Linked DNA regions of Homo sapiens: region 2 is linked to region 1. Evidence: fine-mapped expression QTL. Tissue or cell type: whole blood. Region 1 holds a variant in brackets; the other region holds the start of a gene. All regions are shown on one strand. Distances are from middle to middle.

Region 1 (2,687 bases):
TAATGTGTGGTGACTACTTGTTTCCCTTTGTGGACCTTTCTCAATATACTTCCATTAACAGGCTGTTATTCCTGGAAGAACACCTTTTGACTTGGAATGGATCTTTTGGAGATGGAAGTTATAGATGTGATTTATCAATATCATCTTGATGTTCATTTTACAGGATTACACTCGGATCTGGGCATAAGTCAGAAGAAGCGGGAGCAGGGTCAGAACAATTTGCCCTGGCCTAGTACCGCTTCAGCATTATCACAGGACATGCCCAGATACCTTTGGGTTCAAGAAATATAGATTTTAAAAAAACAAAAACAAAAAAAAAAAGGAGTACTTCTCGTCACTTTCATAGAATTGAAATTAACACTAGCAAAAGTTTTCCCACATAAACCAAGCCTAATACTCCATCAGTTCAATTAGAGAATCTTCACAGTAGGAGGGACTTAAGAAGTCACCCAAGCCAATCTTTAACTTAGAGCAGCGATGCCCTCCTCCAGCTTCCCTGGGACTGCTTCTCCTCCAGCCTCCCTGGGACTGCTTCTCCTCCAGCCTCTACTAGAATCCCACTCCCATCTTCCAACCCCCAGTGACTGGGAGCTCTCAACCTAGGAGGCAGCTCATATTCTAATGTTAGAAAACAGCTTAATGTTCCTAAACTCCTCCTTCCTTATAAATTCAGCCTACAGAGCCTAATTCTTCCTTCAAGAAGAAAAATAATCATGTTGTTTTCCTCTTCTACATGGCAGTCTTCCTTAAATCTGAAGCTAACTATATTATGTCCCTTGAAGTCTTCTCTATCATTGTTCAGGTCAGTCACTCAAATGATCTCTAATTCATCCTAAAATATGCCCCCAGAAATTGAGTGCAGCTCTCCAGACTGGGCTGACTTATGCAGAGAGCATGAAACTTAGGTCCTATGATAGGGATCACAGGCTTCTCATTCAAGCAGAGGTTACAAATCTGTGTGTTTGTAGCTGCATCTTGCTTGTTTATTGAATTTAGGACCAGCTGATTTTCAGGCACTATCCCACATGGACATGTGGACAGCCACCTCAGCAACTCTCCTGCTCAGGTGACTGGAATAATGCCAGTGTCAGCTGGATAGTTGTAAATCAATGCCTCACTGTCCCTCTAAATCGAGTATATCCCAAGCAAAGCATATCCTCCTTCACCAGTCTGTCATTTTTTTTTTTTTTTTTGAGGTGGAGTCCTGCTTTGTCACCCAGGCTGGAGTGCAGTGGCATGATCTTGGCTCACTGCAGCCTCCACCTCCCATGTTCAAGTGATTCTCCTGCCTCAGCCTCCCAAGTAGCCAGGATTACAGGTGCCCGCCACCATGCC[T/C]GGCTAATTTTTGTATTTTTAGTAGAGACGGGGTTTTGCCACGTTGGCCAGGCTGATCTCGAACTCCTGACCTCAGGTGATCTGCCTGCCTTGGCCTCCCAAAGTGCTGGGATTACAGGCGTGAGCCACCGCTCCCAGCCTGTCTCCTTATTTCTATCAATGATCCCACTGTTCTCTTGAGTGACATGAGCTCAAGTCTTAGGCCATCCTTGATTCTCCCCTGCTTCTCTTCAGTCTGGGCCCCATCTAGTTCCTCCTCTCAGTGCCTTTCACAGTCTTCTTTCCATTCTCATTGCCAGGGCTCCTGGCCAGGGCCCTGTGTCCTTGGCCTGACTATCCCAGCAGTCTCTTCATTGAGCTCTCTGCTCCAGCCACCTCACCTCCTATGCCCACACACACTGTTTCCTCCATATTCTACCATTCCTCATTTGCCATTGTATATATGCTTTCTTATTTTGCTATTTGCCTGATTCCTTTGTATTTTGTCTTTCAAGTTTCCAAGACTAGTGACCATACATCTCTTTTTAACTTCAGCAATTTATAAAGCAGTGCTTTAACAAATATTTCCTGTTGACAATAAATATGATATTAGAATATTTTTAGATAAAATGATCTTTAGAAAATAGTGCCAAAAGATATGTAAGTTAAAATAACAACAACAATAATATTGATATTTGGGCCACTTGACTTCTCTAATGGGCATCTCGGAATTACTTCCTCCACAACTGATCTGTCTGGATCTTCCCAAACCCCCCAGTCTACTTCTCAATAGTTTTCCCTCATGTTAGTAGGTGACACCTCCATTCTTCCAGTTGTTCCCCATCCAGAACATGTGGAATCATCCATACTCTATATTCATCAGCAAATCTTTTAGTTCTTCCTTTGATATATCCAACACTTCTCACTCACTGCCTTCATCACTACCATTCTGAATGAAGCAGTCCCACATGCTTTATTCCCATTGCTTTCCATCTTCCTTACCCTGCTCTTTTCTTTTTCATAGCACACATCTCATCTGATTTATTATATTTGTGTGTTTATTGTCTGACTTCCTCCATGAGAATGTAACCTCTGGAATGGCAGGGACTTTGTTTTGTTCCTTGCAAAGTCCCAGCTACTAGAACAGTGATTGGCGTGTGGCAGGGGCTCAATAAATATTTATGAATAAATTGATGAATGAATGCATGAACCCAGGTCTATCCGATTCCATAACTCATATTCTACCCTGCTACCCACTGACCAGGAACCCGCCCTATTTCTCCTTGAACACATTTTTCAGCTACTGTGTTCAACAACTAATTTATATTTAAATAAATCGGTTTTCTTTTCAGAATCAGCATTCGAGCTTTTAC
Region 2 (2,687 bases), 78 kb after region 1:
ATCCCAGCTACTCGGGAGGCTGAGGCAGGAGAATCGCTTGAACCCAGGAGGCGGAGGTTGTGGTGAGCCAAGAACACGCCATTGCACTCCAGCCTGGGCAACAAAGAAAAAAAAAAAAAAGAAAGAAAGAAAAAAAAAAACATGCAGATAAGGAACCAGAGAGGGCTCATCCCCTAAGGCAGGGTTGCTAAACAAAGCCTTGCCAAGCTGTTACTGGCCATGCCCCCAGGATTTAAAGCAAGGTGGAGGCTTGTAGCACAAACCATATAGACATGCAAAACACACCAGATTGGCCACAGCCTAAGACTAGCCCCACAAATCCTTTTTCATAATTAAAGGTTTACAGAAAATTTAAACAGTGATAGTTTGGGGGCCTGGCCTAGTAAATGGGGGGAAAAAACTGTAAAGGTTAACTGTTGACAGGGTGGAGAAGGGGAAAGAAAAGGAACAGTTTTAAAGTGCCTGGGGAAGAATCTCTTATTCTTAGGCAAGTGGTTCCTCCACCAGGAGAAAAGCTCAATTACTGTCAGATGGAGTAAAACCCCTTGACTGGGAAAGGAGAACGCTCCAGCAGTTCTGTGGGGTGGGGACTGCCAACCAGCTATGCCGGACCCTTGGTCCATGCGTCTCAGCCCCTGGAGGTAAGGGAGAGGTAAGGAGATAAGGGAGAAGGGAGCTTCTGTTCCCCAGTCGGTCCCAAAAAAGGAAGGAGGACATGAAAAGGCCCAGGAGTGAAGAGGGGTGGGGTGGGGACATGGTTTCCCCCACCTTCAGAAGTTTGAGGATGAAAAGGCTCAGAAGCAACAGTGAGAGGTTTTGAGTTACCATTTCACTCACCACTTCCGGAGCCCCCAGGGTGTGTGCCAAAAATGTTGCGGAACTTTTCCTTATTTCAGCTAAAGATGGGGTTCTTGTCCTTCCCACAGCCACAAAAATTTAGGCTCACAGACGACTCAAAGGGAAGTAAAGCAGGGTTTTACTGTGTGAAAAGCAAAAAAAAAGGGGGAAATAGGGACTCTTGCAAGGCCAGAGTCCCTCTGCTAGAGCACTTCCTGCCAGGCCATTTGAATCCCAGGTTCCAAACAGGAAGAGGAGGGGCCAGGCTCCTCCCTGCTGCAAAGGGTGTGAACCTCCCGGGGCTCCACCTCAGTGGGCCGGCAGGTTGGAGTTTCTGCAGGGACGCTCACCCACCTGGCTGCCTCACAATCAAGGTGGAAGGCAAAGTTGGGAAGCAAGCACCTTTTTCACATGGTGGCAGGAGAGAGAGAGAGAGACATCTCTAAAAAAAAATTTAAAAATTAGCTGAAAATGATGATGCTCTTCCTATGCCTTCCATCCTATGGTCCTAGTCCTATCCTTTGGATTGTGTTATGGGTTAAGCCAAATATCCCAAAAGTTCATATGTTAAAGTCCTGGCCCCCAGCGCCTCAGAATGTGACCTTATTTGAGAAGAGGATTATTGTAGATGTAACTAATTAAGATGACGTCACCCTGAAGTAGAATGAGCTCAATCCAATGTGTCTGGTGTCCTTATAAAAAGGGGAAAATTGGACACAGACATGCACACAGGGAAAACACCATGTGAACATGAAGGCAGAGATCAAGTGATGCATCTACAAGCCAAGGAACATAAAGATTGCCAATAAACTGCCAGAAGCTAGGGTAGAGGCATGGAATAGATTCTTCCCTCAAAGCCCTCAGAAGGAACCACGCTGATGACACCTTGATCTCAGGCTTCTGGCCTCCAGGACTGACAGACAATATACTCCTGTTGTTTTAAGCCACTCACTTTGCAGTAGTTTGTTAAGGCAGCCCTAGCAAACTAATATAGATTGTTATTAATAATAATAAATGCTCATATTTAAATTCTTACTCAAAGATAAGTAAGAACTCTAGAATGTACTTTTCCTCAGTACAATGCTGTGAGTAGGTACTATTTTTATCCTCATTATATTTTAGTATCCTCATGTGGCAGGCAGAATAATGGGCCGCCAAAGATGTTCTCATCCTAACCCTTGGAACCTGTGACTATTTAGATTACATTGCAAAGGAGAACCAATACTGCAGATAAAATTAAGGCTGGTACTCAGCTGGCCCTGAGATAGAGAGATTATCCTGAATTATCTGTGTGTGTCCCAAAGGAGCACAGGCCAAGCATAAAAAGACTAAAACTTAGATTTGTCCTACTGTGATTTGCCTTTGGTAGAAATGAGGAACTGGAGAGAAAAACTATGTTTCGAAAAGAAAACTATAGCTGGGTGTAGTGGCTGACACCTGTAATCCCAGCATTTTGGGAGGTCAAGGTGGGAGGATCACTTGAGGCCAGAAGTTCAAGACCCAGCCTAAGCAACATAGTGAGACCACCGTCTTTACAAAAATAAAAAAAAGTACTAGCCAGGTGTCCTGGCATGTGCCCGTTGTCTCCAGCTACTCAGGAGGCAGAGGTGGCAGAATCATTTGTGCCCAGGAGGTCAAGACTACAGTGAGCCATGATCACACCATTGCACTCCAGCCTGGGCAATAGAATAAGACCCTGTCTCTGACAAAAAAAAAAAAAAAAAAAAAAAAAAAAAAAAAAAGTCAAAAGAAAACTATAGTATGTAAGAGTTAAAGAAAGAGGAAAGGAACACAAAACACAGCTTGCAGTTGAAGACAGGTTTACTTTAGATCAAACCTGAGAGGTATCC

The links. PIP is the estimated chance that this variant, and not a neighbour inherited with it, causes the effect.
Region 2: PTPRB-AS1 starts here. The variant in region 1 is fine-mapped to the expression of PTPRB-AS1 in whole blood (TOPMed, PIP 0.91).

Annotation. Positions count from the first base shown.
Region 1 is chr12:70,544,643-70,547,329 of GRCh38, reverse strand. PTPRB (protein tyrosine phosphatase receptor type B) reads left to right here. Exons shown (of 34, transcript NM_001109754.4): 22 at 2,667-2,687. All of the region lies in intron 6 of PTPRB-AS1 (PTPRB antisense RNA 1), which reads right to left. Among named protein-coding and RNA genes, the nearest start is that of PTPRB-AS1, 78 kb to the right of the region's middle. The variant T/C (reference allele first, on the strand shown) is at 1,336.
Region 2 is chr12:70,466,478-70,469,164 of GRCh38, reverse strand. PTPRB-AS1 (PTPRB antisense RNA 1) reads right to left here and starts at 1,086. Exons shown (of 9, transcript XR_001749196.2): 1 at 838-1,086. RefSeq lists an enhancer at 385-1,357.